3 separate regions of the Homo sapiens genome follow, and regions 1 and 3 are each linked to region 2. The links come from fine-mapping of genetic effects on gene expression. A gene starts in region 2. Each other region holds a variant in brackets. All regions are shown on one strand. Distances are from middle to middle.

Region 1 (8,269 bases), 26 kb before region 2:
ATGGTGCGACCTTGGCTCGTTGCAACCTCTGCCTCTCAGGTTCAAGTGATTCTCCTGCCTCAGCCTCCTGAGTAGCTGGGACTAGAGGCACATGCCACTACACTCGGCTAATTTTTGTGTTTTTAGTAGAGATGGGGTTTCACTATGTTTGCCAGGCTGGTCTTAAACTGCAGACCTCAGGTAATCCGCCAGCGTTGGCCTCCCAGGGTGCTAGGATTACAGGTGTGAGCCAACACACCCGGCCTACAAGACTGACCAATTTGAGGGCCAGCAGAAAGGCCAGTGTGGCCAGGGAAGAAAGATAGAGGAGATTGAAAGATGTGGTGGCTGGGAGGCCAAGGAGGGAGGGTCACTTGAGCCCAGGAGTTTGAGACCAGCCTGGCAACATAGGGAGGTGCCCTTTCTACAAAAAATCAAAAAATCAGCTGGGTGTGGTGGTGAATGCCTGTGGTCCCTAGCTACTCAGGAGGCTGAGGCAGGAGGATTGCTTGAGCCTAGGAGGTATAGGCTGCAACGAGCCATGATCCTGCCACTGCACTCCAGCCTAGGCAACGAGTGAGACTCTGTCAGAAAGAAAGAAAGGAAGGAAGGAAGGAAGGAAAGATGGAAGGAAGGAAGGAAGGAAGGAAGGAAGGAAGGAAGGAAGGAAGGAAGGAAGGAAGGAAGGAAAAAAAAATAAGATGGTTGGAGGCCAGGTGCAGTGGCTCACTCCTGTAATTCCAGCAATTTGGGAGGCTGAGGCTAGTGGATCACCTGAGGTCAGGAGTTCGAGACTAGCCTGGCCAACATGGTGAAACCCTGTCTCTACTAAAAAATACAAAAATTAGCTGGGTGTGGTGGCAGGCGCCTTAATCCCAGCTACTTGGGAGGCAGAGGCAGGAGAATCATTTGAACCCGGGAGGCGAAGGCTGCAGTGAGCCGAGATCGAGCCATTGCACTCAAGCCTGAGGGACAAGAGTGAGACTTGTCTCAAAAAAAAAAAGAAAGAAAAGAAAAAGGTGGTTGGAGAAGTAAGGAAGTAAGCAAGTAAGCATGGGCCAGACCATAGTGGGCCGTGCCAGCCACGGTAAGGACAGTGGATCTTGTTTTAAGTATATTGGGAAGTCATGGAGGAATCTGAATAAGGTAGGGAAGTAATCTGATATAGATGCTAAAAAGATCCGTCTGACTGCTGCGTGCCATGGTAGTGAGGTGCTGGCTGTTACCAGGGGGACTGTCTCTCTCTGCAGCTGGGACAGCTGGTGCTGGGGACTGGGGGATGGAGGAGCAGTCAGCAGAGAAGAAACACCATGACGTTTGTCCCAAGTCTGCCTGTATCAGCAGCCCAGAAAAAGGCGGCACTGTCAGCAACTCACTTGTCCTTAGGGGTCCCAGCAGCAAGACTGTTGCTCCTCCCCCCAACACGCATACCATGGAGGCCAGGAAAGGTCCTGATAGGTTTTCCTAACTTGGGTTAAAGGAAGGAGGCACAGGCCCTGGGCTCCCAGAAAGTTCCCTGTGAGAGTCTCCATTAACCCCCAGAGTCTCTCATCCGTGGCGTGACTGAAGCAGATTTGTGGTTCCTGGATGGCCTGGATAGTTTGGCAGTTCCCAAAGCTGAAACAAATAGACTCAACTGGGGCTCTTAAAAAAGAGTGATCCCGGCCAGGCGCAGTGGCTCACACCTGTAATCCCAGCACTTTGGGAGGCCAAGGCGGGGAGATCACGAGGTCAGGAGATCGAGACCATCCTGGCTAACACGGTGAAACTCCGTCTCTACTAAAAAATACAAAAAAAAAAAAAAAATTAGCCAGGTGTGGTGGTGGGTGCCTGTAGTCCCAGCTACGCGGGAAGCTGAGGCAGGAAAATGGCATGAACCCGGGAGGCGGAGCTTGCAGTGAGCTGAGATCGCGCCATTGCACTCCAGCCTGGGTGACAGAGCGAGACTCGGTCTTAAAAAAAAAAAAGTGATCCCCAGCACCCACACCAGTCTAAAGTTTTAGGGTACTGGCCTAGAAATCCACAGTATTAAAAGCTTCCCCTCAGCTGGCCATGGTGGCTCATGGCTGTAATCCCAGCACTTTGGGAGGCTGAGGTGGGAGGATTGCTTGAGCCCAAGAGTTCGAGACCAGCCTGGGCAACACAGCAGCACTCCATCTCTACAAAAAATATTAACAGTAAAGAATTAGAAAAAAAAATTTTAAATAAATAAAAGCTTGCCTTAACTACCAGTTTATAGAAAACACAAGGACACAGGAACATGTTAAATGACACCATGAGATGCAATCAGAAAACTCTACAACATGGAAAACTCTAACGGACAAGGACGTGATTTTTTCAACAAAGAAATTGCAAGGAAGACAAAAAAAAGAAGAACCTGAAGATTGAGTCATAACAACCATTTACAATGTGGGCGGTCTGAGCTCCATTACAGTTCAAACCAATGAATTATTTAAAAATTGGACAATCAGATAAATTTGAACATGATAGATAATTTATGATACTAAAGAATTGGGCTGGGCACGGTGGCTCATGCCTGTAATCCCAGCACTTTGGGAGGCAGAGGTGGGCGGATGACATGAAGTCAGGAATTCAAGACCAGCTTGACCAACATAATGAAACCCCGTCACTACTAAAAATACAAAAAAATTAGCCAGGTGTGTTAATGCGTGCCTGTAATCCCAGCTACTTGGGAGGCTGAGGCAGAAGAATCCCTTGAACCTGGGAGGTAGAAGTTGCAGAGAGCCAAGACCACGCCATTGCACTCCAGCCTGGGCAACAAAAACAAAACTCCGTCTCAAAAAAAAAAAAAAAAAAAGGCCGGGCGTGGTGGCTCACACCTGTAATCCCAGCACTTTGGGGAGGCCGAGGCGGGTGGATCACAAGGTCAGGAGATTGAGACCATCCTGGCTAACATGGTGAAACCCCATCTCTACTAAAAATACAAAAAATTAGCCAGGCGTGGTGGCAGACACCTGTAGTCCCAGCTACTCGGGAGGCTGAGGCAGGAGAATGGCATAAACCCGAGAGGCGGAGCTTGCAGTGAGCCGAGATGGCGCCACTGCACTCCAACCTGGGCGACAGAGCGAGACTCCATCTCAAAAAAAAAAAAAAAAGTGGCTGGGTGTGGTGGCTCATGCCTGTAATCACAGCACTTTGGGAGGCCAAAGAGGGAGGACTGCTTGAGCCCAGGAGTTCGTCACCAGCCTGGGGAATAAAACAGGACCCTGTCTCGGCCAGGCGCGGTGGCTCATGCCTGTAATCCCAGCACTTTGGGAGGCCGAGGCGGGTGGATCACGAGGTTAGGAGATCGAGACCATCCTGGCTAACATGGTGAAACCCCGTCTCTACTGAAAATACAAAAAAATTAGCTGGGCATGGTGGCGGGTGCCTGTAGTCCCAGCTACTCGGAAGGCGAGGCAGGAGAATGGCGTGAACGCAGGAGGCGGAGTTTGCAGTGAGCCGACATCACCCCACTGCGCTCCAGCCTGGGCAACAGAGGGAGACTCTGTCTCAAAAAAAAAAGACCCTGTCTCTACAAATTTTAAAAGAAAAGTACTGTTAACTTTTATAAGGGTCATAATGGTATGGTAATTGCCATTTATTTATATATTTATTTATTTTATTTTATTTTTCAGAAACAGGGTTTTAGTATGCTGCCCAGGCTGGCCTCAAACTCCTGGGCTCAAGCAATCCTCCTGTTTCAGCCTCCCAAATAGCTAGTAGGACTACAGGAATGGCCCAGTGCACCTGGCTTATAGTTGTCTTTTAAAAACAGCCATTACCATTTATTTATTTATTTATTTAGAGACTGAGTCTTTCTCTGCTGCCCAGGCTGGAGTACAGTGGCATGATCTCAGCTCACTGCAATCTCTGCCTCCTGGGTTCAAGCAGTTCTCCTGTCTCAGACTCCTGAGTAGCTGGGATTATAGGTGTCCTCCACGACAACCAGCTAATTTTTGTATTTTTAGCAGAGATGGGGTTCGCTATGTTAGCCAGGCTGGTCTCCAACTCCTGACCTCAGGTGATCCACCCACCTCAAGCTTCCAAAGTGCTGTGATTTCAGGCAAGAGCCACGTGCCCAGCCTAAAAAGAGCCCTTACCTTTTAGAGAGGCATACTTAAAAATGGATGAAATAGATGTCTATGATTTGCTTTAAAATAATCTGTAGAAAGAGGTGAGTGAGAGCATAAATGAAATAAGATGAGCCATCAGTTGGTAATCTTTGAAACTGGGTGATGGCTACATGGGAGTTAATACACTTTTCTCTCTCCTTTCTCATGTATTTGCAATTTTTCCTATAAAAAGTTTTTTGGTCTGGGCACAGTGGCTCATGCCTGTAATCCCAACACTGTGGGAGGCTAAGGTGGGAGGATCACTTGAGACCAGGGGTTTGAGACCAGCCTGGCAACATGGTGAAATCCCATCTCTACCAAAAAAAAAAAAAAAATTAGCTGGGTGTGGTGGCACCACCCTGTAGTCCCTGCTACTCGGGAAGCTGAGGTGAGAGGATCACCTGAGCCCCGAATTTGAGGCTACAGTGAGCCATGACGGCACCACTGCACTCCAGCCTAGGCCACAGAGGGAGATACAGTTTCAAAAAAAAAGTTTTGTGTTGTTGTTTTTAACTAAGCTTCTCAGATTCACCCAGATGCGGAGTCAGTGAGATCTCACATGGTCAGCTTCACAGGAGGGCAGGCTTTCTGCATAAAAACAGGAAGCTTAGAGAGCTCCGGGGCAGGGTGTGCTGTGACTTCACTGTGTTTTTGCAGAAACAGGTCTGATAGCCCTCGGAGATCAGC[A/T]GACAAGGTTAAGCAAGAGACAGCAAGTCTGAATTTGAGGTTAAATGTGAAATCACACATGTTGTCTAGATGTTTGGTCAGCACTGGCTCCTGGATCTTGGGGGCCTCTACAGAGCCCACCCTCCACCCCCATGTGCTTATGCCAGCACATGTGATAGCTGGAGACTTATCCAGCCACCTCACTGCACACCCCAGCAAATGGCCAGCACCAGTGGGTGATCAGGAAATGATGCCCGGACAAACTGATAGATGTAAGGAATTTGAGGCTGGGCACAGTGGCTCACGCCTGTAATCCTAGCACTCTGGGAGACTGAGGTGGGCAGATCCCTTGAGGTCATGAGTTTGAGACCAGCCTGGCCAACATGGAGAAACCCCTGTCTCTACTAAAAATAAAAAAATTAGCCAGGCATGGTGGCGTGCGCCTGTAATCCCAGGAAGCTGAGGTAAGGAATTTGAGGCCTTTCCTAGAGGCAGCAGCTGGAAGTGGAGGGATTGAAGGAACCCCTCATCTGACCAGCTGCTCAATTTTCTTACCCACACGATAAGGCTGGTTCCTTAACTACACGGCCACGTGAAAAAAACAAAAAACAGGGCCAGGCACAGCGGCTCATGCCTATATTCCAGTACTTTGGGAGGCTGATGTGGGAGGATCACTTGAGGCCCGGAGTTCGAGACCAGCCTGGACAACATGACAAAACCCCATCGCTACTAAAAATGTGAATATTTAGCTGGGAGTGGTGGTGGGTGCCTGTATTCCTGGTTACTCTGGAGGATGAGGTATGAGAATCCCTTGAACCCTGGAGGCAGAAGTTGCAGCGAGCCGAGATTGCGCCACTGCACTCCAGCCTGAGCAACAGAGCAAGACTTCATCTCAAAAAAAAAAGAAAAAGAAAAAAAACACAATTTTGGGTCCAGGCCCTCTGGGAAGATGACTGCAGTACAAGGGGCCAAGGTTAAAGTGGATGGTGGTGAGTCAAAACTGAGCAAGAACAAGCCGAAGAGATACCTGAAAGCCGAGAAGAAAGTGGCAGAGAAGGCAGCCAAGCAGTAAGAGCTCAGTGAGAAACAGCTAAGCCCAGGTCACTGCTGCTGCCACCAACCATACCACTGACAATGGTGTGGGTCCTGAGGAGGAGAGCCTGGACCCAAATCAGTACTACAAGATCCACAGCCAAGGCCAGGCCCGGTGGTTCACTCCTGTAATCCTAGCACTTTGGGAGGCTGAGGCAGGCAGATCACTTGAAGTCAGGGGTTCGAGGCCAGCCTGGCCAACATGATGAAACCCCATCTCTACTAAAAATACAAAAATTAGCTGGGCATGGTGGCACATGCCTGTAATTCCAGCTACTTGGGAGGCTGAGGTAGGAGAATCGCTTGAATCTGGGAGGTGGAGGTTGCAGTGAGCTGAGATTGAGCCACTGCACTCCAGCCTGGGCAACAGAGCGAGACTCTGTCTCAAAAAAAAAAAAAAAAAAAAAGATTTGCAGTCAGGTAGGTCAATGGGAAAGACCCATACCCCAACGAGATCCATGTAGACATCTCCCTCACTGACTTCATCCCAGAATATTGTCACCTGCAAACTGGGGATCTCCTGACTGATATCACCTTAAACGTGACAGATAGGATCCATGCCAAAAAAGCTTTTGGAGGAAAGCTGAACTTCTATGATCTTTTTTTTTTTTTTTTTGAGATGGAATTTCACTATTGTTGCCCAGGCTGGAATGCAATGGCACAATCTCAGCTCACTGCAACCTCCTCCTCCCTAGGTTTAAGCAATTCTCCTGCCTCAGCCTCCCTAGTAGCTGGGATTACAGGCGTGCGCCACCACGCCCGGCTAATTTTGTATTTTTAGTAGAGGTGAGGTTTCTCCATGTTGGTCAGGCTGATCTCGAACTCCCAACCTCAGGTGATCTGCCTGCCTGCCTTGGCCTCCCAAAGTGCTGGGATTATAGGCGTGAGACACAGTGCCCAGCCATGAACTTCTATGATCTTTGAGCAGAGGGGGTCAAGTTGCAAGTCATGGCCAATTTCAGGAATTATAATTTCAGGAAGAATAATTTATTCATATTAATAACAAACTGCGTTGGGGAAACATAATTGGAATTCAGAGGAATCCTGGGAAAAACCAAGAAGGATGAGCTGAGCTTCATTCCCTATGAGATCACACTGCTGTGGCCTTGCTTGTATATGTTACCTCATCTTCACTTTGGCCTCAAAGACAAGGAAATAAGGTATGGTCAGAGATACTTGGACTTGATCCTGAATGAATGAGGCAGAAATTTATCATCTGCTGTAAGATCATCACATGTATAATAAGTTTCTTAGGCCAGGTGCAGTGGCTCACGCCTGTAATCCCAGCACTTTGGGAGGCCAAGGCAGGCAGATTGCCTGAGGTCAGGAGTTCGAGACCAGTCTGGACGACATGGTAAAACCCCACCTCTACTAAAAATACAAAAATTAGATGGGCGTGGTGGCAGGTGCCTATAATCCTAGCTACTCAGGAGGCTGAAGCAGAATTACTTGAACCCAGGAGGTGGAGGTTGCAGTAAGCCAAGATTGCACCACTATACTCCAGCCTGAGCAACAAGAAAACTCCATCTCAAAAAAAAAAAAAAAGTTTCTTGGATGAGCTGGGATTCCTAGAGCTTGAAACTCCCATGAATGAACGTCATCCCAGGGGAGCTATGACCAAGCCTTTCATCACTTATCACAACAAGCTGCACATGAACTACTCTAGAACTCTACCATAAGATGCTAGTGGTTGGTGGCATTGACCAGGTTTATGAAATTGCATTCCAGTTCTGGAATGAAGGAATTGATTTGACGTAAAATCCTGAGTTCAGCACCCCTGAGTTCTACATGGCCTAGACTATCACAATCTCACGGAAATCACGGGGAAGATGGTTCCAGGGATGGTGAAGCATAATACAGGTAGTTACAAGGTCACCTACTACCCAGATGTCCCAGAGGGATAAGCCTGCAATATTGACTTCACCCTACCCTTCCGGAGAATCAGCATGATAGAAGAGCTTGAGAAAGCCCTGGGGGTGAAGCTGCCAGAAAATAACCTATTTGAAACTGAAGCAATTGGCAAAATTCTTGATAATATCTGCGTGCAAATGCTATTGCGTGCCCTCCACCTAGGACCACAGCCAGGCTCCTTGACAAGCTTGTTGGGGGAGTTCCTGGAAGTGATTTGCAACAATTCTACATTCATCTGTGATCACCCCCAGATAATGAGCCCTTTGGCTAAATGGCACTACTCAAAAGGTCTGACCCAGCGCTTTAAGCTATTTGTCATAAAGAAAGCGATAAGCAATGCCTACACTGATCTAAATGATCCTATGCAGCAGTGGCAGCTTTTTGAAGAACAGGCTAAGGCCGCAGGTGATGATGAGGCCCTGTCCGTAGATGAAAACTTTGTTGCCGCCATGGAATACAGGCTGTCCCCCACAACTGCCTGGGGCATGGTTATTGACCGAGTCACC
Region 2 (8,269 bases):
AGCAGCTGGGTCACACTTGGCCATTAACCCCCAGGCATGAGGAGGAGCAGACAGCAACCAACAAGGGGAAGTGGTCGCCAGAGGCCAAGGCCCTTCTTGAGGTGCCCAGAAGGGGATGCCCACTTATCAGGGAGCCCAGGTGGAAAAACAAGAGACAGACACAGACGCAGAGGGAAGATAATTTAGATTCGGTCTGTGTCATTGGCCTTTCTCAGCAGCAACTGGCCCAGGAAGTTCAGATGCTACCCAGATTCAGGGTTTTTTTTGTTTTGTTTTGAGACGGAATTTCCTCTTGTTGCCCAGGCTGGAGTGCAGTGGCGCGATCTCAGCTCACTAGAACCTCTGCCTCCCAGGTTCAAGTGATTCTCCTGCCTCAGCCTCCCGAGTAGCTGGGATTACAGGCACCTGCCACCAGGACCAGCTAATTTTTTTTGTATTTTTAGTACAGACGGGGTTTCACTATGTTGGCCAGGCTGCTCTCGAACTCCTGACCTCGGGCGATCCACCCAACTTGGCCTCCCAAAGTGCTGGGAATACAGGCGTGAGCCACCATCCCCAGCGTTGTTTTTTTTTTTTTTTTGACAGGGTCTCACTCCCATTGCCCAGGCTGGAGTGCAGTGACACGATCTCAGCTCACTGCAGCCTCAACTTCCTGGCCTCAAGTGATTCTCCTACCTCAGCCTCTGGAGTAGCTGGGACCTCCGGTGCGCACCACCACGCCTGGCTAATACTTTGTATTTTTAGTAAAGACAGGATTTCACCATGTTGCCTAGGCTGGTCTCAAACTCCTGGACTCAAGCAATCTGCTTGCCTTGGCTTCCCAAAGTGCTGGGATTACAGACATGAGCCACTGCGCTGACCCAGATGCAGTTTTTGTTTGTTTTGAGACGGAGTCTTGCTCTGTTGCCCAGGCTGGAGTGCAATGCACTCGGCTCACTGCAACCTCCGCCTCCGAGGTTCAAGTGATTCTCCTGCCTCAGCCTCTTCAGTAGCTGGGATTACAGGCACACACCACCCTGCCCAGCTAATTTTTGTATTTTTAGTAGAGATGGGGTTTCACTGTGTTGGCCAAGCTTGTCTCAAACTCCTAGACTCAAGCAACCTGCCCGCCTCAGCCTCCCAAAGTGTTAGGATTATAGGGGTAAGCCACCGCATCCGGCCCCAGATGCAGTTTTGAGATCTATTTCCCCTGCACCAGGATTTTTTCAACAGGAAATGACGAGGAGCTGCTGGAAGCTAGCCTTGTATTGTCTTTAAGGAGGATTTCTGCCCCAGGTGAAATAACGTGTCAGACCAAGCCCCCTCATGCTCTCAGGACCAAGAGACCTAGTCTGATCTTGTCCCTCAACTCCATGCCTTAGAGAATCCACCTGTGCCTCCTCCACAACAGTTGTTGTAATGCCCAAACTAGACCTCTGCTGGGCTGTTAGCCAACCCTGGATCCCCTCTCCACTCCTCCATGCCCGATCCAGACCTTTGAAGCAAGGTTCAGCTACTGCTGTGGTGCCTCCCCCAACCCCCATGACCCTGATTAGCCCTCACCAGCACTACCCATGATTTCCCTTAGCCAGTATCACCATAATAAAGAAATGAGATGCAAACTGATCAGGGTGCAGGTAGATCTCTTCCCGAGAGGATAACTGCTAACTAACATTTGATGTGTAGACTCTTCTGGGGTCTTTTTGTGTCCGGAATTGGTGGGTTCTTGGTCTCACTGACTTCAAGAATGAAGCCACAGACCCTCGCGGTGAGTGTTACAGTTCTTAAAGGTGGCGTGTCCGGAATTTGTTCCTTCTGATGGTTGGATGTGTTCGGAGTTTCTTCCTTCTGGTGGGTTCGCGGTCTCGCAGGCTCAGAAGTGAAGCTGAAGACCTTCGTGGTGTCACAGGTCTCAAGGCGCCGAGTCCGGAGTTCTTCGTTCCTCTCCGTGGGTTCATGGCCTCGCTGGCTTCGGGAGTGAAGCTGCAGACCTTCGCAGTGAGTATTACAGCTCATACAGTATGGATCCAAAAACGGAATAGCAGCAACAGCCATTGCAAACAGCAAAAGAACAAACCTCCCACTGCCTGGAAGAGAACCCCAGCAAGTTGCTACTGAAAGAGCGGGCAGCCTGCTTTTATTGTCTTATCTGGCCCCACCCACATCCTGCTGATTGGTCCATTTTACAGAGAGCTGATTGGTCTGTTTTACAGAGAGCTGATGGGCCCGTTTTGACAGGGTGCTGACTGGTGCGTTTACAATCCCTGAGCTAGACACAAAAGTTCTCCACGTCCCCACTAGATTAGCTAGATACAGAGTGTCGATTGGTGCATTCACAACCCCGGAGCTAGACACAGGGTGCTGATTGGTGTGTTTACAAACCTTGAGCTACATACAGAGTGCTGATTGGTGTATTTACAATCCCTTAGCTAGACATAAAGATTCTCCAAGTCCCCACCAGACTCAGGAGCCCAGCTGGCTTCACCCAGTGGATGCTGCACCGGGGCCGCAGGTGGAGCTGCCTGCCAGTCCGGCGCCGTGTGCCCGCACTCCTCAGCCCTTGGGCAGTCGATGGGACTGGGCGCCGTGGAACAGGGGTTGGCGCTCGTCGGGGAGGCTTGGGCTGCACAGGAGCGCACGGCGGGGGTGGAGGCTCAGGCATGGAGGGCTGCAGGTCCCGAGCCCTGCCCGGCGGGGAGGCAGCTAAGGCCCAGCGAGAAGTCGAGCACAGCAGCTGCTGGCCCAGGTGCTAAGCTCCTCACTGCCCGGGCCGGCTGGCCGCTCCGAGTGCGGGGCTTGCCAAGCCCACGCCCACCCGGAACTCGAGCTGGCCCGCAAGCGCAGCCTGCAGCCACGGTTCCCGCCCACGCCTCTCTCTCCACACCTACCCGCAAGCTGAGGGAGCCGGCTCCAGCCTTGTCCAGCCCAGAAAGGGGCTCCCACAGTGCAGCGACGGGCTGAAGGGCTCCTCAAACGCGGCCAGAGTGGGCGCCAAGGCCGAGGAGGTGCCGAGAGGGAGCGAGGGCTGTGAGGGCTGCCAGCACGCTGTCACCTCTCATTTTTGTGTCTGTATACTAACATATATATAGAAAAAAATATTCGGCCCGGTGCGGTGGCTCACGCCTGTAATCCCGGAACTTTGGGAGGCCAAGGTGGGCGGATCACGAGGTCAGGAGATCAAGACCATCCTGGCTAACACGGTGAAACCCGGTCTCTACTAAAAATACAAAAAATTAGCTGGGCATGGTGGTGGGCGCCTGTAGTCCCAGCTACTCGGGAGGCTGAGGCAGGAGACTGGCATGAACCCGGGAGGCGGAGCTTGCAGTGAGCAGAGATGGAGCCACTGCACTCCAGCCTGGGTGGCACAGTGAGACTCCGTCTCAAAAAAAAAACCACGTCTCTAAAAAAGAAATAAGGCCGGACGTGGTGGCTCATGCCTGTAATCCTAGCACTTTGGGAGACCTAGGTGGGCAGATCGCTTGAGCTCAGGAGTTCAAGACCAGTCTGGGCAACATGGTAAAACCCTGTCTCTAAAAAAAAATGCAAATATACAAAAATTAGCTGGGCATGGTGGTGCATGCCTGTAGTCCCTCCCAGCTACTTAGGGAGCTGAAGCAGGAGGATCACTTTTACCTGGGAGGTCGAGGCTACAGTGAGCTGAGATGGTGCCACTGCACTCCAGTGAGACCCTGTCTCAAAAAAAAATTTGTTTTAATAAAATAAAAAATAACAATTAGCCATGCATGGTGGCACTGCACCTATAGTCTCAGCTACTTGGGAGGTGGAGGAAGGAGGATCGCTTGAGCTCAGAAGTTCAAGGCTGCAGCAAGCTATGATCAAGGCTGCAGCAAGCTATGATCACCCCACTGCAACTCCAGCCTGGGTGACAGATACTCTGTCTCTTGGAGAAGGAAAAAAAGCTAAAATAATGATCCCCAACAAAAATTGTTCTTAAATTTCATTTTCGGGGCCGGGCACGGTGGCTCACGCCTGTAATCCCAGCACTTTGGGAGGTCGAGGCAGGAGGATCACTTGAGGTCAGGAGTTCAAGGCCAGCCTGGCCAACATGGTAAAACCCCATCTCTACTGAAAATACAAAAATTAGCTGGGCATGGTGGCGGGCACCTGTAATCCCAGCTACTCGGGAGGCTGAGGCAGGAAAATGGCTTGAACCCGGGACGTGGAGGTTGCAGTGAGCCGAGACTGCATCATTGCACTCCAGCCTGGGCAACAAGACCCAAACTCCGTCTCAAAACTGAAATGAGATGAAATGAAATAATGAAATGAAATGAAATGAAATGAAATGAAATGAAATACCTATAGGGAATCTTTCTGTCCATCAAACCAGACAGACCGAATTAACTCTTCTGAGTCGCAGCTTAGAATATTTGACCTGCCTAGGAGCTGGGCACAAGCCGGCAGCTAACCGCCACGTGGGCCTGGGTAGGAGGTGAGATCAGGAAGATCCCTGGGCCCCTACTAGTTCCCTGCCTGGCCTCCTCCCCCACTCGTGTGGGGGTCTACGGAGCCAGCGCTGGGGGTGGAAGGGCGAGGAGTCCTCGACGCTGCAGCGGCGGTTCCGGCCCATGGGGGCGCTCTCCTGCTTGGGGGCGGAAAAGCCGTGGCGCCCCCTTGCGTGGCGCGTCGGTCTCAGAGTCGCGTGACTTCAACCCCCTCTTCGGGAGGCTGGGTCGTCATGATCCGGACCCCATTGTCGGCCTCTGCCCATCGCCTGCTCCTCCCAGGCTCCCGCGGCCGACCCCCGCGCAACATGCAGCCCACGGGCCGCGAGGGTTCCCGCGCGCTCAGCCGGCGGTATCTGCGGCGTCTGCTGCTCCTGCTACTGCTGCTGCTGCTGCGGCAGCCCGTAACCCGCGCGGAGACCACGCCGGGCGCCCCCAGAGCCCTCTCCACGCTGGGCTCCCCCAGCCTCTTCACCACGCCGGGTGTCCCCAGCGCCCTCACTACCCCAGGCCTCACTACGCCAGGCACCCCCAAAACCCTGGACCTTCGGGGTCGCGCGCAGGCCCTGATGCGGAGTTTCCCACTCGTGGACGGGTATGTAGGTGCAGCGTTTGGGCAACGCGGGGTGAGCACACCCTTGGGCAGGAGAGGAGGTTCTGAGCATGCTATCAAGGAGGCTATCAAGGAGGCTCCCTCACACCACCCCTGGATGCCCTCTCTCCTCCATCACCCATGGGTGCCCTTCCCCGCATTACTCCATTCCTGGTGGAATCTAACCCCCTCCCTCCAACCCAACCTCAGGAGGTCTCTATATGGTCTGTGTGAGGAGGTGCCTGGTGGGGTGGAGGAGGGTAGACCCAAGCACCTGATATATCCTGACTGATCTGGAGGCGGTGTTTCCATCTGACCTTCACACCCCCAGCCACAATGACCTGCCCCAGGTCCTGAGACAGCGTTACAAGAATGTGCTTCAGGATGTTAACCTGCGAAATTTCAGCCATGGTCAGACCAGCCTGGACAGGCTTAGAGACGGCCTCGTGGGTGCCCAGGTACCACAGGGACACACAGGGTGCCACAGCATGGCTGCTGGGGGATGTTGGGGTCACAGAAACCTGGGTCAGCCAGCCTCTGGGTGACTAAATACAATGGGGCATGCAGTGTGCCATCATGTGGTTTCTAAGGAGAGTGGGGCCTTGGAGGCCAAGACAGGCTAGCTGCATGTATGCCCAGGTTCTGTGGAAACACGCAGAAAATGACCAGAAAATCCCTGGTGAGTGTGGGGTCTGCCGTAACCACAAAGGACATAGTGGATTGGCCTTGGGGCATTCACATAGCACATGGACTAACAGCAGTTTTTTGCTTGTTTGTTTGTTTGCATTTTTGAGACAGTGTCTCCTTCTGTCGCCCAGGCTGGAGTACAGTGGCACGATCTCGGTTCACTGCAACCTCCGCCTCCCGGGTTCAAGCAATTCTCCCTGCCTCAGCCTCCTGAGTAGCTGGGATTACAGGCACTCGCCACCACGCCCTGCTAATTTTTGTAGTTTTAGTAGAGACAGGGTTTTACCATGTTGGCCAGGCTGGTCTCGAACTCCTGACCTCACATGATCCACCCTCCTCGGCCTCCCACAGTGTGGAGATTACAGGCATGAGCCACTTGGCCTGGCCGTAACAGTAATTTATGATGTGTCGTGAGTCCATCATTTGACTGCTGGCAGCAAACAGTCATCAAGGAACCAGGCTCGGTAGTTCACATCTGTAATGCCAACACTTTGGGAGGCTGAGGCAGGAGGATTGTTTGAGCCTGGGGGGTCAAGGCTGCAGTGAGCCATGATCACACCACTGCACTCTAGCCTGGGTGACAGAGCAAGACCCTGTCTCAAATTTTAAAATAAAAATAAAAAATAATTTTAAAAAAAGTCATCAAGGTACCATGGAGTCATGTAGTGCCTCACTTGGGGCCACTGACCCAAATGGGTGTTATGGGGTCTGAGGCAGGAGTGGCAGGCCTAGGGGGTTGAAGACCGCCCTGGCCTCATTCTGGACCCCTTGACCTACCCTCAGTTCTGGTCAGCCTCCGTCTCATGCCAGTCCCAGGACCAGACTGCCGTGCGCCTCGCCCTGGAGCAGATTGACCTCATTCACCGCATGTGTGCCTCCTACTCTGAACTCGAGCTTGTGACCTCAGCTGAAGGTGGGCCAGCAGATGAGAGGTAGTCAGGATGTCACTCTGGAGGTTCTGTTCCTGGGATCTAACCACTTGACTCTCTACCTCCTTCTAGGTCTGAACAGCTCTCAAAAGCTGGCCTGCCTCATTGGCGTGGAGGGTGGTCACTCACTGGACAGCAGCCTCTCTGTGCTGCGCAGTTTCTATGTGCTGGGGGTGCGCTACCTGACACTTACCTTCACCTGCAGTACACCATGGTGAGCATAACACCTGGCCAGGATGCTAGATGGCATGGTGTGGAAACTGCCCCATTCCTGGCATGGGTGTGACCAAGCCGTTGAGGATGAAGGGGTCCGCAGAGGGAGGCTGGACACCCAGTGGGTCCCTCACAATCCCAGAAAGCAGCTGGTTCTGCACCTGTTCTGGAAGCAGGATGGATGGATAGAGCCAGGGCCCCCAGGCTGTGATGGCCCAAGGTGTGATCAGCTAAATTGCCCTTCCATGGCTGTCCTGCAGGGCAGAGAGTTCCACCAAGTTCAGACACCACATGTACACCAACGTCAGCGGATTGACAAGCTTTGGTGAGGTGAGGACTCCTGTTTTGTACCCCAACCCACCTGCTGCCTACGGATATGTGTGTACACCTTTGCACCCCAACACCCTCCCCCACAAAAAAACCTAATTGTTTCTGCAGAAAGTAGTAGAGGAGTTGAACCGCCTGGGCATGATGATAGATTTGTCCTATGCATCGGACACCTTGATAAGAAGGGTCCTGGAAGTGTCTCAGGCTCCTGTGATCTTCTCCCACTCAGCTGCCAGAGCTGTGTGTGACAATTTGTTGAATGTTCCCGATGATATCCTGCAGCTTCTGGTGAGTGGCCATCCCAGCTCTCAAACTAGGCATGTGTTATCCAAAGGTTCTTGACCCTGAGCACAAAGCCACCAGCCCAGGTTTCACACACCCTTGGACCAAAGGCTGGTTAATCCTCCTCCATCCCTGAAACTTAAGGCCAAGTAATTTCCACTCAGGGACCCACAAACGCAGAGAGGTGAAGCCTCTTCCAACCCCTGAAGCCAGGATGGAGCACAGTCCTACCAGGGCCCCCACAGCACAGGAGGCATGTTCTCAGGCCAGAAGGGCTGAGATGAGTATCCCTTTATCCCTCTAGAAGAAGAACGGTGGCATCGTGATGGTGACACTGTCCATGGGGGTGCTGCAGTGCAACCTGCTTGCTAACGTGTCCACTGTGGCAGGTAAGTCCCACCTCAGCTTTGTGCAGTGCTGGCTTGGGCTGTGGCTGCCAGGGCCCTCAGGACGACTCTAGCAGTCTAGTGCACCTGTTGGGCAATGGGCAGACCTCCCAACGACCCAGAGGCAGCAGACACAGCTCTTCAGTGCCACCCAGATCTGGAGCCACAGAGTCAGTGCTGATGTGTTTGATGCCTCCTGGTTTTGCTCCCAATCCTTGAACTTCTCTCATTCCCCACATCTCTGGGCAGGACAGGCTCAGCCTGCACCAGGCTCTCAAGGAACCCAGAGGCAGGGTGGCTCCTGGGCAGGAAAAGTCCCAAAGGGGTGGCTCCAAGGTCCACTCTAGGTCCAGTGACCAGCCTGTACCCGCTTCAGGACTCATGACTGGCCATGAGCTAGCTCTGTGGAGC
Region 3 (8,000 bases), 180 kb before region 2:
GTGATCCGCCAGCCTCGGCCTCCCGAGGTGCTGGGATTGCAGACGGAGTCTGGTTCACTCAGTGCTCAATGGTGCCTAGGCTGGAGTGCAGTGGCGTGATCTCGGCTCGCTACAACCTCCACCTCCCAGCCGCCTGCCTTGGCCTCCCAAAGTGCCGAGATTGCAGCCTCTGCCCGGCCGCCACCCCGTCTGGGAAGTGAGGAGCGTCTCTGCCTGGCCGCCCATCGTCTGGGACGTGAAGAGCCCCTCTGCCTGGCTGCCCAGTCTGGAAAGTGAGGAGCGTCTCTGCCCGGCCGCCATCCCATCTAGGAAGTGAGGAGCGCCTCTTCCCGGCCGCCATCCCATCTAGGAAGTGAGGAGCGTCTCTGCCCGGCCGCCCATCGTCTGAGATGTGGGGAGCGCCTCTGCCCCACCGCCCCGTCTGGGATGTGAGGAGCGCCTCTGCCCAGCCGCGACCCCGTCTGGGAGGTGAGGAGCGTCTCTGCCCGGCCGCCCCGTCAGAGAAGTGAGGAGACCCTCCGCCCGGCAGCTGCCCCGTCTGAGAAGTGAGGAGCCCATCCGCCCGGCAGCCGCCCCGTCTGGGAAGTGAGGAGCGTCTCCGCCCGGCAGCCACCCCGTCCAGGAGGGAGGTGGGGGTCAGCCCCCACCAGGCCAGCCGCCCCGTCCGGGAGGGAAGTGGGGGGGTCAGCCCCCCGCCCAGCCAGCAGCCCCGCCCGGGAGGTGAGGGGCGCCTCTGCCCGGCCGCCCCTACTGGGAAGTGAGAAGCCCCTCTGCCCGGCCAGCCGCCCCGTCCGGGAGGGAGGTGGTGGGGTCAGCCCCCAGCCCAGCCAGCCGCCCCGCCCGGGAGGTGAGGGGCGCCTCTGCCCGGCCGCCCCTACTGGGAAGTGAGGAGCCCCTCTGCCCGGCCACCACCCCGTCTGGGAGGTGTACCCAACAGCTCATTGAGAACGGGCCATGATGACAATGGCGGTTTTGTGGAATAGAAAGGGGGGAAAGGTGGGGAAAAGATTGAGAAATCGGATGGTTGCCATGTCTGTGTAGAAAGAGGTAGACATGGGAGACTTTTCATTTTGTTCTGTACTAAGAAAAATTCTCATTCTGTTGATCTGTGACCTTACCCCCAACCCTGTGCTCTCTGAAACATGTGCTGTGTCCACTCAGGGTTAAATGGATTAAGGGCGGTGCAAGATGTGCTTTGTTAAACAGATGCTTGAAGGCAGCGTGCTCGTTGTTAAGAGTCATCACCACTCCCTAATCGCAAGTACCCAGGGACACAAACACTGCGGAAGGCGGCAGGGTCCTCTGCCTAGGAAAACCAGAGACCTTTGTTCACTTGTTTATCTGCTGACCTTCCCTCCACTATTGTCCTATGACCCTGCCAAATCCCCCTCTGCGAGAAACACCCAAGAATGATCAATTAAAAAAAAAAAAATGATCAACATGTTCTTTGATCTTTGCTTGTCTTTCTTCAGCCCTTCTCTGTCTATAAAGTCAACCTTGTCGGAACACTTATGTATTTTATGGAATGAAGTGTTGCCCAATTCCAGAATCACCAATAAAGCCAATTGAGATGTTTAAAAAAAAAAAAAAAAGAGTTTAGGCTTGAAATAACCAAGCCCATGGCTTAGTAGGCAAAACCAAGGGAGTATCTATGAATTTTTCCACACCTTATTGCCTTAAGAGAACAGTAAAGACACTTAATACATACTTAAGGTTCACTTATGCATAAATTATTTTGAACCATGGTCTTATCTATCACCTGGGAATTTTAAACCTACCATTATCTGGAACTATATTATATTCAACCACTGTACTGAATAATATAGTTACATTCAACAAGCTACTAGGATACTAGTTTATCCTAGCAATTAGCTACTGAGTAAACAGGCTCATTCATCATTAGCTACCCTGGTATCTACAGTACCTAAAAAAAGTTTCTTAGGTTTAGTAACATCCTAGTTGCCCCTTATTTAATCCTTTCTCCAATATACATAACGCTTGGGTCCTACAGAACTCCTGTTCCACAATCTACCAGTACAGAGCAGATAGAATGGTCAAGAAGTTTTAGGTATGTGTGTGGTAGGGTTGCAGGAGGAGGACTACCTGTATGTTACTAGTCATAGTGGTATTTCTGCAGCCTGGTCCTTTCTGGTCTAAAATACACAGTACATGCTAGATCTGGTTGAGGAAGGGACATAAATTATGACTATTACCCTTGTTCCATGTGCTAGTAAATGGAAGATGATGGAGGAGACAGGTAAATTTAGATCCTACTGCTCCAATGCTTTCATATTATTTGGGATATGAGCCTTTCCCAATTTCTTGATAATTTTTCATAGAAATTAATATACTCTTTTCTATTTATTGGTTTATATATTATTTTCAGAAAGGATATGAGGCATTTTACAATATAGATACAAATAAAGCCAAGAAAAAATAAATAGAAAAAATTTTAAAACACTAGGAAGTAAACTCCAAGTCTAGAGTTGTACAAATTACTATAATTACTGTAAACGGGCTTGACTATGAAGTTCTGGAAGCCAAGGCAAAAAGTAAATGTGATAAAGTTGTTATAGGCCACGTGTTGTACGGTAAAGCAAAATCTACCATGCCATCGGGAAACACTAACTTTTTTCCTTTAAGTTGAAAGGACTGTGTTTGTGTGTGCATGCACACACGCATGCAATAGTGATCAACCTAAGAGAAACTGTCTTTAATAGTGGTTTTTCAGATTATGAAGTATGTTCATGGCTATTTCTCATACTGTCCCTCAAGCCAAGTTAAGTAACAGAATAAACTTGTGATTTTTCTATTTAACTTGATTCGAATATTGTGCTTTGAATATCCAGAGGAATGAATGCAAACATGGCCTGCAAACTATCGTCTAGGGATCAATTTCCTGAGTTTTTGGAAAAAGACAGTTCAAAGGTGATTTTTAAATTTCCCTCTACAGCTGACTAATCACATATCACATGCTTCTGATGCTATATAAAAAAGTAAGATCCCAGAACAAAAGGGAAGAAGCCTACTTGTATTCTCATTCAGAGGTTGGGCATGTTAACCTTATTTGAAAATGTGTCCAATAGGATGCCTGGTGTCAATATTTTTCCTCAAGAAAGTTTTGCTCGAGTATCTGAATAAATACAGGCTGAGATTCCAAAGTTCTTTCTACATTATAGAACACAAATGTTTAAGGCCGTTGCAGTGGCTCACATCTAGATGTAATCCCAGCACTTTGGGAGGCTAAAGCGGGTGGACTGCTTGAGGCCAGGAGGTCGAGACCAGCCTGGTCAACATGGCAAAACCCTGTCTCTACTAAAAATACAAAAATTAGCCAGGAGTGGTGGTGCACGTGTGCAATCTCAGCTACTTGGGTGGCTGAAGCACGAGAATCACTTGAGCCTGGGAGGCAGAGGTTGTAGTGAGCTAAGATGGTG[A/C]CACTGCACTCCAGCCTGGGCAACAAATTTAGACAGTCTAAAAAAAAAAAATTTAAGAGTAGAGATTATCAGCTAGCTGTCTGCCTTTGCTGTGAAAAAACTCTGTCATAGCCCCTATGCAATGATTTGCTGGGTTAGGTTCTTGAGTACTGTCCATCTGAACCAAAGCAGGCAAAAATTTTATTTAAATTTATATTTATTTAAAGATTTTATTTAAATTTATATTAACTTTTCTTTTCTGGTAGTAATTAACAGAATAAGGTTTTTTGTTTTTTGTTTTGAGACTAAGTCTCACTCTGTCGCCCAGGCTGGAGTGCAATGGCGCAATCTGGGGTCACTACAACCTCTGCCTCCTGGATTCAAGCGATTCTCAAGCCTCAGCCTCCTGAGCAGCTGGGACTACAGACAGGACAACTATGCCCAGCTAATTTTTCTATTTTTTAGTAGAGTTGGGGGTTTCACCATATTGGCCACGCTGGTCTCGAACTCCTGACCCTCAAGTGATCTGCCCAAAATAAGTTATGTATTGAGGCAACTCTTATTTTACCTAATAGAAACATATCAGTTTCTATGTCCTCAGGGAGTACACTCAGCTCATCTAAAAAGTTTATTTAAATATAAATTTAAATGAAGAGAGCTCAAGACTGAAATCTGATTTTTTGGGGTTTCTTTTTCTTTTTGAGTCGGAGTTTCGCTCTTGATGCAATGGAGTGATCTCAGCCCACTGCAGCCTCCACCTCTGGGGTTCAAGCAATTCTCCTGCCTCAGCCTCCTGAGTAGCTGGGATTACAGACACCCGCCACCACACCCAGGTAATTTTTTGTATTTTTAGCAGAGACGGGTTTCACCATGTTGGCCAGGCTGGTCTCAAACTCCTGGTCTCAGGTAATCCGCCCACCTCGGCCTCCCAAAGTGCTGGGATAATAGGTGTGAGCCACTGCGCCCAGCTGAAATCTGTTTTATAGGACTGTTCTTGCAATAGCCTGGGATGGATGTTATTCCTGCCTTAAGAAAGGTCTGTGGGCCAGGCTCAGTGGCTCACGCCTGTAATCCCAGCACTTCAGGAGGCCGAGGTGGGTGGATCACGAGGTCAGGAGATCAAGACCATCCTGGCTAACACGGTGAAACCCCATCTCTACTAAAAATACAAAAAAATTAGCCGGGCGTGGTGGCAGGTGCCTCTAGTCCCAGCTACTCAGGAGGCTGGGGCAGGAGAATGGCATCAACCCAGGAGGCGGAGCTTGCGTGAGCCGAGATTGCACCACTGCACTCCAACCTGGGCCACAGAGCGAGACTCCATCTTGAAAAAAATAAATAAAAATATAAAAAAAAAAAAAAAAGAAAGAAAGGTCTATAGTGTAGTTTGAAACAATTTCTGTAATAAAAATCTAAGTTTCCCATGTCTGGTTGTGCCTACTACCCACTGATAGGTGCCTGCCTACTCAATATCCTTTCTTTTCTTCTTCCTCAGTAACAGGCCCCTACATTGCTTTGTTTGTTTTTTGTTTTTAAAGATAGGATCTCACTCTTGCCCAGGCTGGAGTGTAGTGGCAGTGGCACTATCTCGACTAACTGCCACCTCTGCCTCCCGGGCAAGTGATCCTCCTACCTCAGTCTCCCAAGTAGCTGGGACTACAGACAGGCGCAACCGCACTCGGCTAATTTCTGTAATTTTAGTAGAGACAAGGTTTCGCCATGTTGCTCAGGCTGGTCTGAAATTCCTGAGCTCAGGTGATCCGCCTGCCTTGGCCTCCCAAAATACTGGGATTACAGGCATGAGCCATGGTGCTCGGCCTCCCTAAATTATTTGAGGTGACAATGTGTTCTGGTAAACATAACCATGTGTTCCTTACATATAAGCATGATCAATGAGATGTAGAGTTGTTAAGTAGGTTTTAGGAAAAGGTTCTTAAAAGAGGATTTGACTCCAATGGAAGTTCCCTTTTACCCTTCCTCCACACCTTTCTCCTTATTACCCCTCTGGTAATAAGGATGTCATGGCTAGAGCTCCAGCAGCCATTTTAGATCATAAGACAATCTTTAGGATGGAAACCACATGCTAAAGACGGCAAAGAAGAAAAAACTTGCTTGGGGCCCTAATGACTTATGCAGCTACTGTGCTAGCCCTAAAATATCTATCTGTATATTTCGTTTATGTGATAAAACACTAAACCCCTAACTGTTCAAGCCACTGCATATCAGGTTTCTATTACAGGCAACTATATATAATCCTTTTGTACAAAACTCTATTGCATTCTCATTCAGAAGTTGGCCACCTCATCTTATTTGGAAATGGGTCAAGTGGGATGCCTGGAGGTAAAGTCAAAAGTTTTCCTTAAGGAAATAGAACAATCATAATTGTATCATAATTGTTTATTTATTGTCTACCCTATTAGATAGACTGTGAGCCATTTGATGAAAGTCCAGATACAGTATTTATATCCCTATCACCTAGGATAATGGCTTGGCTGGTAATATATAGTATAAAAACACTTACTGAATTGAATTTTCCTTCTGGAAATATGCTACCACTCTTAGAAAATGTACTAAATGTACATTATTTACATAATGCCATTTAGAACAATATTTTATATTTATATTCAAAAATATATTTACTTTTTTTCTGAAAGTATAGAGAAAAAAAGAACTGCACATTTTAGGTATATTTCAAAATACCTGGCTGACATATTATTTTCAGGAAGAAGTGGAATTTCCAGAACTTTTGTACTGGCAATTATTATCTCTTGGCTTGCAGTAGCGACTGTCTTCCCAGTGATTCGATGCACCTGGTAAAATGCATGAGGTCGTAAATATCGATCATCTGCTGTCCCAATAAACATTTGTAGATTTATTGGCTTTTCGTTATAGCCCAGGAGCTAATCAGGAAAAAGAAACACAGAAAAGCACAATTCATTATCCATGCATTTTACAATATGCCAACAATAGTAAGTCTATTATATCTCTATCATATACTATTGACACACAAAATGTTATTTCAAAAAATACAACCAAAAGTAACCAGTGAGCAGCCCTCCAAATTTCCAAATTAGTTTAAGAAATAAAACACTGGAATACGTTACATAAAGGAATGTGGGTTTGGTTTTGTTTTTTTAAGATAAATATCTAGATCGACCAAAACTGTACAAAGCTTTCTGACTCTGCTGTAGAAAACACAAAAGAAATACTGATTCTGTACTCTGGGCAACATTAACCATTCAGACCAGACCTAAAGATTTGGGTATATAGGAAGGTCCTCTAACAGACTGTTAAATCGGAGACACTTTTAGTAGAAAGAGTCTGAAAACCCCTATTCCATATATTATAAACTTACAATTTTATAAGTATAAACTTACAGACCCCAAGCAGCCTAGCTAAGGCTAAAACTGAAATGAGATTTTGAGCTGCCACCAACCACAGGGAGACAAGTTTTCCAGGCTGACTCCAACCAAGTTAAATGCCTATTTAAGCAAACAATTTCAACAATCTTCGGGAAAGAGAAAGAGGGAGAGAGGGAGAGAAGGAGAAGGAGAGAGAGACAGAGACAGAGAGAGAGAATGTGTTTGTGCCTTTGTTTTCTATGCCTTTTTTTTTTTCTTTTATATTGCCTAATTGCTCTGGCTAGGACTTCTAGCATAAGGCTGAATCGCAGTAGTGAAAGCAGGCATCCTTGTCTTGTTCCTGATGTTAGAGGGAAACCTTTCAGTCTTTAACCATTAAGTATGATATTAGGTGTGAGTTTTTCAAGAATCCTCTTAATCACACTAAGTTTCCCTCTATTTTCAGTTTGCTTTGTTTTGCCTTTTTTTGAGACAGTGTCTCGCTCTGTCACCCAGGCTGGAGTATAGTGGTACGATCTCTGCTCAGTGCAACCTCTGCCTCCTGGGTTCAAGCGATTTTCCTGCCTCAGCCTCCCGAGTAGCTGGGATTACAGGCACCCACCAACATGCCCGGCTAATTTTTGTATTTTTAGTACAGATGGGGTTTCACCATGCTGGCCAGGGCGATCTGAACTCCTGACCTCAGGTGATCTGCCCGCCTCGACCTCCCAAAGTGCTGAGATTACAGGTGTGAGTGACTGTGCCCGGCTGTTTTGCTTTTTTTAAATCATGAAAGGCTGCTGAATTTTGTCAAAGGTTTTTTTCTCTATCAACTGAGATGACCACATGGTTTTTCTCTTCATTCTACTAATGTAGTAAATTACACAGATTAATTTTCATATGTTGAACCACTCTTGCTTTCCTGGGATAGATCCCACTTGATCATGGTGTATAAACTTTTGTAGTGTGCTGATGGATTTGGTTGCTAAGCATTTTGTTGAAGATTGTTGCATGTATATTCATGAAGGATATCGGTTTGCAGTTTTCTTCTCTTGTATCTTTGTCCCCATCATTATCCATTTGTTTTTGTTTTTGTTGTTGTTGTTGTTTTTGAGACGAAGTCTCGCTCTTGTCCCCCAGGCTGGAGTGCAGTGACACGATCTCAGCCCACTGCAACCTCTGCCCCCCAGGGTCAAGCGATTCTCCTGCCTCAGCCTCCCGAGAAGCTGGGATTGATTACAGACTC

Evidence for each region.
Region 1: its variant is fine-mapped to the expression of DPEP3 in whole blood (GTEx, PIP above 0.99).
Region 3: its variant is fine-mapped to the expression of DPEP3 in whole blood (TOPMed, PIP above 0.99).

The regions. Positions count from the first base shown.
Region 1 is chr16:68,002,450-68,010,718 of GRCh38, reverse strand. It overlaps the pseudogene KARS1P3. Among named protein-coding and RNA genes, the nearest start is that of DPEP2, 7.1 kb to the right of the region's middle. RefSeq lists an enhancer at 3,360-4,133. The variant A/T (reference allele first, on the strand shown) is at 4,782.
Region 2 is chr16:67,976,862-67,985,130 of GRCh38, reverse strand. It overlaps DPEP3 (dipeptidase 3), which reads left to right and starts at 4,632. Exons shown (of 10, transcript NM_001370198.1): 1 at 4,632-5,037; 2 at 5,366-5,492; 3 at 6,505-6,634; 4 at 6,723-6,864; 5 at 7,124-7,193; 6 at 7,302-7,478; 7 at 7,777-7,861. The coding sequence starts at 4,751. RefSeq lists silencers at 1-205, 328-427 and an enhancer at 4,808-5,308.
Region 3 is chr16:68,156,182-68,164,181 of GRCh38, reverse strand. NFATC3 (nuclear factor of activated T cells 3) reads right to left here. Exons shown (of 10, transcript NM_173165.3): 4 at 6,114-6,313. Among named protein-coding and RNA genes, the nearest start is that of MIR6773, 73 kb to the left of the region's middle. RefSeq lists an enhancer at 1-618. The variant A/C (reference allele first, on the strand shown) is at 3,438.